2 separate regions of the Homo sapiens genome follow, and region 1 is linked to region 2. The links come from fine-mapping of genetic effects on gene expression. A gene starts in region 2. The other region holds a variant in brackets. All regions are shown on one strand. Distances are from middle to middle. Region 1 has its middle 280 kb from the start of DELEC1. Region 2 holds the start of TNC (tenascin C).

Region 1 (4,396 bases), 310 kb after region 2:
CCTTGTACACTAAAATTATGATAACATACTAAATGTTTATAAATACTATCTTAAATTTTAACTATTGCCCTAATAATTTTGTAATTAGGGTTCTAATATCTTTCTGTTAGCACCCTAACAATTTGCGTTTTCATAACACTTTTTCCTGTTAAACTAGTCTAGGCCCCCAATAGTTGCTTTATGGCTATTTTTTTTCTTAAATAACATGATTTTAACATCCTGTACCATTCTGATTTCTCTTTGGTGCATTTCCTAATTTGTCACTGATTCTCTTAAATACATCGATCAAAATTGACAAGACTTCAAGTGCAATAAAATGTTTATCTCCTACTACTGATGAATTGTGTTCCCCACAGAATTTATATGTTGAAGCTCTAACCCCCACTGTTACAGTATTTATAGATTAGGCCTTTGGGAGATAATTAGATTTAGATGAGGTCATAAGAGTGGGGAATAATTTAGTGCTCTTATAAGAAGAGACACCAGAGAACTTGCTCATTCTCTCTCACAATCATATGAAAACACAGTGGGAAGGTGCAAGAAAGGAAAAAAGCCCTCATCATCAACTGACTATGTTGGCATCTCAGACTTCCAGCCTCCAAAACCTTAAGAAAATAAATTTCTGTTGTTTTAGCCACCCAGTTTTTTGTTATGGCAGCCTGAGCAGTCTAAGACACCTCCCTTCGCACTTCCCATGCAGTGTCTGGCATAATGCTTGGCTTCCATGGAGTGATTGATAGACTTGTCCTTAGGATGCCAGCCTTAGGGGACCATTCTTAGTTTGCCCAGAATCGACATAAACTGATGGGCCTAGGAGGCCCCTCAACTGCATGCCAGATTCTCCCACTGTTGGTCTGGATTTCTGGGTTTCCAGTGCCTGCCTACCCATTCCAGCCTTGGGGAGCCAACAGCTTCTTGGGGAAGACATCACATTCATGAATAATATGACAAGCATCTGAGTTGGCAGCAAGGGGTGGCAGAATTTTCTTAGGGTTGAGGCCAAGGCTGACAGATTTCCTGCTTTCATTCAGCTCCTAGAGGCCCAACAAATTCACGTGGCCATGTCTGGTGCTCCGGGACTCACGGTGGGAAGACTTAGAGAAAGCTGGGTAATATTCTCCTCTGCAGCTGCTGGATATCCTCCACAGTTTATTCATTCTTACAACTCCCTCATGAAGGACTGATGAATACCTGCTGACACACAGTAGTGCTGCCCGCAAGAACAGTAGAGCAGCGTAAGTGAGTCTCTTCAATTTCCTCACCCCAAAAATGAGGGCAATGGTAATAAAAATATTGCTCAAGATTTCCAACAGTAAATCTCTCAGGCCATGTAATTAGAGCTACCATCACTAGGCACTGTTCTAAGAACTCTTGACATACTGTTTCTTATGAAGCCTACAGTGCTATCAGCAAGACGGTCATGCTCATTTTACAGGTGAAGAAACTGAGGATAGGAGGATTTATTGACTTGCATGAGTTCACAAAGCTAGTTAGTGTAAAATTTCTTTCCCAGTGCTTGATGCATAGCAAACACTCAATCTGCATGTATGAATCTATAAAAGTACCAGATTTTGGTTTTTAATTCAAGTTGACTACAAAGCCTATGTTTCTAACCATTGCATCGTATTGCTTAACTGTAAACTATAGAG[C/T]GCTGTTCATCTGTAATGAGCATTTGGTCATTGGTTCTGATTCCAAAACTGATCACCCTATGAGTCAAATCCCAGCGGACCTTCTGAACTTTATATCCTATCTATTTATATATTTTGTGAGTTACAGATCTGGGGCAGGCTTCTGTGTGGGGCAAAAGTAAAAGAAATATTAGTGCTGACACTATGTTTGAGAATATTATCCCACAGAAGAGGGAGGAGAGTAGGAAAAAATAAAATTCAATGAAAAAGCTTAATAATAGCCTGTCTAGCCTGCTCTTATGCTGCTATAAGGAAATACCCAAGACTGGGTAATTTGTTAAAAAAAAAAAAAGGTTTAATTGACTCATAGTTCAGTGTGGCTGGGGAGGGAGGCCTCAGGAAACTTACAATCATGGCACAAGGCAAAGGGGAAATAAGGCACTTTCTTCACAAGGCAGCAGGAAGAAGTGCTGAGTGAAGGTGGTGAGATCCCCTTATAAAACCATCAGATCTCATGAGAACTCACTCACTATCACAATAACAACATGGGGGAAACTGCCCCCATGATTCAATTACCTCCACCTGGTCTCTCCCTTGAAATGTGGGGATTATGGGAATTACAACTTAAGACGAGATTTGGGTGGGGACTAATCATAAAATTCCGCCCCTGGCACCTCCCAAATAACATGTCCCTTTTACATTTCAAAACCAATCATGCCTTCCCAACAGTCCCCCAAAGTCTTAATTCATTTCAGCATTAACTAAAAACTCCATGTCTAAAGTATCCTCTGAGACAAGTCCCTTCCTCCTATGAGCCTGTAAAATCAAAATCAAGTTAGTTACTTTCTAGATACAATGGGGGTACAGGCATTGGGTAAATACAATAATTCCAAATCGGCCAACATGAAGGTGCTGCAGGCCTCATGCAAGTCTAAAATCCAGCAGGGCAGTCAAATCTTAAAGCTCCAAAATGATCTCCTTTGACTTCATGTCTCACATCCAGGTCACACTGATGCAAAAGGTGGGCTCCCACAGCTTTGCACAGCTCCATCCCGTGGCTTTGCTCGAAGCTGCTGTCACAAGTTGGCATTTAGTGTCTGCAGCTTTTCCAGGTGCACAGTGCAAGCTGTCAGTGGATCTACCCTTCTGGGGTCTGGAGGACTGTTGCCTTCTTCTCACAGCTCCAGCAGGGAGTGCCCTAGTGGGGACTCTGTGTGGGGGCTTCAACCCCACATTTCCCTTCTGCACTGCCCTAGCAGAGGATCTCCATGAGTGCTCCAACCCTGCAGCCAACTTCTGCCTGGATATCTAGGCATTTCCATACATCCTCTGAAATCTAGGTGGAGGCTCCTATACCTCAATTCTTAACCTCTGTGCACCCACAGTCCCAAAACCATGTGTAAGCTGCCAAGACTTGGGGCTTGTACCCTCTGAAACAATGTCCTGAGCTGTATGTTGGCCCCTTTTAGCCAAGGCTGGGACACAGGGCACCAAGTCCTGAGACTGCACAAAGCAACAAGGTGCTGGGTATAGCTGGAGAAACTGTTTTTGCTTCCTAGGCCTCTGGGCCTCTGATGGGAGGGGCTGCCATGAAGACCTCTGACATGCCCTGTGGAAACGTTTTCCCCGTTATCTTGGTGATTAACATTTGTCTTCCCATTATTCAAATTTCTGTAGCCAGCTTGAATTTCTTCCCAGAAAATGGGTTTTTCTTTTTCATCAAGCCATTAGGCTGCCAATTTTTCACTTTTATGTTCTGCTTCCCTTTTAGACGTAAGTTCCAATTTTAAACAATCTCTCTGTGAATGCATAAAACTGAATGCTTTTAAGAGTACCCAGGTCACATGTTGAATGCTTTGCTATAATACTTAAAAAATTTCTTCTGCCAAATATCATAAACATGTCTCTCAAGTTCAAAGTTTCTCAGATTTCTAAGGCAGGGGCAAAATGCCACCAGTGTCTTTGCTAAAAGATAGCAAGAGTCACCTTTGCTCCAGTTCCCATGAACTTCCTCATCTCCATCTGAGACTATCTTAACCTGGACTTTATTGCCCATATCATTATCAGCAGTTAGGTCAAAGTCATTCAAAAAGTCTCTAGGAAGTTCCAAACTTTCCCACATCTTCCTGTCTTCTGAGCACTCAAACTGTTCCAACTTCTGCCCATTACCCAGTTCAAAAGTTGCTTCCACATTCTCAGGTATCTTATAGCAATGCTCTACTACCTCAGTACGAATTTACTGTATTAATCCGTTTTTACATTGCTATAAAAAATACCCAAGACTGGGTAATTTATAAAGGAAAGAGGTTTAATTGACTCACAGTTCAGCATGGCTGGGGAGGCCTCAGGACACTTACAATCATGGCAGAAGGTGAAGAGGAAGCAAGGCACCTTCTTCACAAGGTGGCAGGAAGGAGAAGTGCTGAGCAAAGGTGGGAAGAGCTCCTTATAAAACCATTAGATCTCGTGAGAACTCACTATCATGAGAACAGCTTGGGGGAAACCACTCCCATGATTCAATTACCTCCACCTGCTCTCTCCATTGTCACATGGAGATTAAGAAGATTACAATTCAGGATGACATTTGGGTGGGGACACAAAGACTAATTATAGCCACTTATTTAATGTTTATCTGTGGCAGACATTTTGTTAAATATTTCATAGACAGTATCATTTTATCTTCATATGACCTCATGAAATAGGGACCTTTACTATCTCTCTGTCACAGATGAAGAATATGAGAATATTTATTTAATGATTACTTCATG
Region 2 (4,396 bases):
CCTGAAATGCAAGGGCCAAAGCACGCTGACTTACATCTCCTGCAAATGACTTGTATGCGCACAAAGCCAGAAACTCTTCACTTGGTTGTCTAGGACTGAATAAATCTTCTTCAGTCCTGAATTGGGCTTGCCTGGCTGGGATGGATAGTAGTTTTCCTTTCTAAAACACATATGGGAAAGCTCTGTAAAAATGGGGGAAAAAGTCTACAAAAACATGAAAAAGAGGCATTCATTCTTCAAGTGGTGCTCCCTGTCCTGCCCTCCCTCCGGACAGAAAGCTTTTCCAAAGAGTTTCCAACAGCATCGTACTTCATAGCTGTCAGCTTTAGAATCTGCAGATGCCTAAACTCAAAACCTCCTGACATTCTGGAATCAAAATTTGACATTAACTTCCAGCCCCGGGCTACTACCTTTTCTCCAACCTGTGCCAACACAACCTCCTGCTTGTAAAATACAGCCAAGTCTCAGACCTGCCAGCCTAGTGAGACACCCTCAGATTGGGTGAGATAAAAAGCGGGGGCTGGGGGCGGGCTGAGGAACAACACACAAGAAACAATCCAAGACTGGCTCAATGCCTCTTTTAACTTCCAGAGTGATGGCAGTTTTTGGCAATGACAATGATTATCCAAACTTCCAGTTATTAAGCAGTCATTGCTGATCTTTCTATACCTCATTTTCTCCTCAAAACGACAGCAGACGCTATTGTCCCCATTTTAGAGATGTGAAAACTGAGGATTAAGGAAGTGATGTATCTTTCTCAGGGTCATATGTATGGTGGTGGGGAGAATACCAAACACCTCTGGCTTCAAACCTAAGCTCTTATTCCTCTTACAACACTGATGGGTGAGAAGAACCCCTGTGTTCTTTCCAAAGTACACCAGGGGCAGCAGGGTTCCCATACCTGGGGGATGTTGTTGCTCAGATCTTTCTGTGATGAGAGGTGAGGAGGAGGAGGTGATTCTAGAGACATGTGGGACGCTGCTGGCTCTAGGCACCCCAGTAAAGCTGTTCTCCACCACTCTCTAGCTGCCTGTCAGTTATTCATCTGGCCCAGGAGCCACCTCCTCTCTTCTGTCCCCCAGCTCTCATTTCCAGGGTGAATATTTTGAGGACCAAATGAGGGAATGGGTACAAAACTCTTTGTAAACTTTATGTAAGTGCTGTTTAGATATAAACTTTTATATTCTCCCTGCACTCCTCTATCAAACTCCCTCTAACCCATCCCAGGGGCAGGCTATGAGCAAAGTCTGCCTTAAAACTCTACTGCCCTAACCCTCAAAATAAAAGATATATACAGGTGAATCAGCCAGACTAGAAGTAGGAGAGCAGTTGAAGAGAAAATTTTTACTTTTCCTCTGCAGAACAGCAGAAGATAACAACTTTACGAAAAGTTCCTTCCAAGTCTGACTATTCATAAAGTTAAAACAAACAAAATTACAAGACCAGAAAAGTCAAGGTGCATCTGATATAACCAATACACACTCCTTTTTTTTCCAGCGGTGGAAAAAAAAACCCCATATGTTTTGTAATTATAATATAAAATCACAACTCATTTGGTACCAGGAATGCAATCCTTACATCATAAGGATCTCTAGTGATGAGGGCAAAACAGACTTACCTTTCCGATGGGCGAGAGACCTAGGTCCTTGGAAGAAGTACCTGGAGTGTGGAGCTGCGGCGGTTCCCACGTGCGCGTTCCCCCGAGTTCCCCAGCAGCGCTGCCTTTGTGCCCACGGAGGCGGGGGCGTGTATCTGCGCGCGGGAGAGGCGGGTGACAGTAGGCAGGCTGTGGCCGGTGCAGCCAACTTTGGCTGGCTTATATAGCGAGCTCCTTCCTCTGTAATGGGACGCCTCGCCTCCAGACATCCTTTCCCACTTTTTCAGTTGGCGAATTAAAGGAACAGCCCTCCCAGCGGAACAGGGTTAGCTCATGAAAGACGCACTCACTCCTGGCTCTCGGCCAGGGAAGGAACCCATTTGCATACAATTTATGGCGAAAGTAGGAATTCCCGCCTGCCCGCCCCCGACCCCGAGTAGCTGTTAGTGAAATGTGATTTTTGCTTTGCTCCCCACACGGGTTTTCTAATTGTGAGACGGATGCCTGGGGAGCAAGAGGGAGTAGGATCCGCAGCCCTGGCTCCCCTCTTGTACTTGGTCAAGCTGGAAATGGGACCAGGGCTCGCCTGGGCTCTGGGCAGCAGCTGCTCAGTGGCACCTCGGAGCGAGTACAGGGACTGAGCCCAGTTCCTGGAAAGAGGAGATAAAGCCCTTCAAAAGCCTGGGGGGTTTCAGGTTTCTCTGGGCCAGCGGAGAGATAACCCAGGATTAGGTCTCAGCAGGTGGGGATCGTGCGGGACGCTCACATCAGCCCTGCTTTTCTTGTGTGGGAGCCAGCCTTGCCCAGCTGCTGGGAGGCATCTTTGTTCCAGCCCCAGTGTCCTGCAGGGCAGTAGCTTTTTGACATTGTTCATGCCCTGTGCCTGGTGTGGTCTTCTCAGCTGGGTCTCCAGGGGGAAGGATTTCTGAGGTTTTCTCTTAGTGCTGAAAGGCGTCCCCCACAGCCCTTTCTTTAAAGAAAAGCAATAATTTAAAAAGGTAACAACCTAATCCTTGAGCCATAAGCTGCGCCTTTGCTTTCCAGCCTGCCGTGGATTTCCTCCAAGCTCTGAGTCATCCGTTCGTTTGGTGGTTAGCATGCATTGAGTATCCTCAGGGCATACAGGGGCATTTAAGGGAGTGGAGAAGTAGCACTTCACCCGTGCCTAGAGACTTCTGAGCCTGCCGCAGAGCATAGTAGTTTGTGACAGTGAAGTAAAATGAAGCATTAAATGTAATTCAAAACGCAACTACCATTGAGCCCTCCCTTATTAAGTCTATAATCAGGTGCTGTGCAGGGTACTTTATGAACACTATTTTTGTTCACTATTTTTATTATATCCTTGTAACCAGTAAGTAGGATAGACACAAGTGTCTCTTTTTTACACAAGAAAACTGACGTTTAGAGAAGTAATGAAACTTTACCAAGGGAATACACCTGGGAAGTGTTTATATTACAACACTGGGCTCCAGAGATCTATTACACGTTACTGTTTAGGAATAGGGTATGATGATATTTAAACAATGTTTTATGCTGTATTAGATTGTTAACACCATTTGTGTAGAAATCACAGCCATATTTGAATATGGAAAATATATTTATTTGCTCCATAAAGCTAATTAGGAGAGATCTTTGATTTTTAAAAATTAACTACTAATAATGGAGGTCTCAATTATCCACTTATTTTCAATATTAAATGATATCATCCCCACAGTTATTATTGTTGCTGTGGGCCTCAGTTTCCCCATCTGAAAAAAAAAGCAAGACACGATTAGGTCATCCTACGGTTGCTTTGGCTGTAGTATTTTAGGATTCTCTGCTAAAGTGACCCTCCCAGACAGCAAGAAAGCCCATAAATAGTCATGTCATAAAACCGCTCATTTGAACTTTTGATCCATTTTGGCTGATTCAAATGTTGGTTGTTTGGGAAGTTTTAAATTCTGTGCTTTAGCCAAAGGATATTTCAGTAGCATGAAGCTGTGTCTCAACCAGCAGTGAGTGGTTCCTACTGAGTTAATCTCTTGGGTTAGGGATTAAAATATTAGAATAGTGTACAATATATGTCATATGGTATATAAACTATATTTGTATAGAACATATAATCAATATATTTATAATTCTATGTGAGTTTTTAAATAAGACAAGAGCGCATGCTAGAAAACTAGATAGATATGGCTTTTTCGGGGAATGTCTCAAACTCGAACTCCTCTCCCCAGTTCTTTAGGATTCTACAATCGTTGATTAGTGTCTACCACAAGTGGTATGGTCAATCACAGGGAAACTAAGCCAAATATGACCAGGCTGGCCCTCAAAGCAGGAAAAGGCTAGCAGAGGTGACAAACAAGAATACTATTATGGGTTAAGTTAACAACTATCATATAAGTGTATTCTGATAACATAGAGAAGAGATGATTTATGCATTTTTAGGAGAGGCTACTTGTAAAAGGCATTTTCTCCAAAAAGCTATGTGGCATCTTAAGCTTTTTGGCATTTGAGTAAGGAGTGCCCAGACGAGGACGTGTTTTCCATCCCTGTACTGTTCGCAGCCTCTGTTTCTGGTAGATGGGTCCATATGCACCAGGTACTCTACAATACCCAAACTTTGTTCATGCTAGGATGATGCCCTAGGCTCCTCACCTCCATGCCCTCACATCTATTTATCATCCATTTCTGATCTGACTTCACTATGGAGCTTCCTAAATGGAAGAAATCCATCTAGGAAGAGATGTTTCTATGCACTATGGCATTTGTAACTCTATTAGGACATCCATTGCATCTACATGGTATAATTACACATGT

The links. PIP is the estimated chance that this variant, and not a neighbour inherited with it, causes the effect. A credible set is the group of variants that fine-mapping cannot tell apart.
Region 1: its variant is the best candidate, but not a certain one, in a credible set for the expression of TNC in fibroblasts (GTEx, PIP 0.65).

Annotation. Positions count from the first base shown.
Region 1 is chr9:115,422,154-115,426,549 of GRCh38, forward strand. No RefSeq gene overlaps it. Among named protein-coding and RNA genes, the nearest start is that of DELEC1, 280 kb to the left of the region's middle. The variant C/T (reference allele first, on the strand shown) is at 1,650.
Region 2 is chr9:115,116,364-115,120,759 of GRCh38, forward strand. It overlaps TNC (tenascin C), which reads right to left and starts at 1,794. Exons shown (of 28, transcript NM_002160.4): 1 at 1,619-1,794. All of the region lies in intron 2 of LOC124902255 (a long non-coding RNA gene), which reads left to right. LOC101928748 (a long non-coding RNA gene) reads right to left here. Exons shown (of 6, transcript NR_110950.1): 6 at 3,176-3,345. RefSeq lists an enhancer at 2,073-2,892.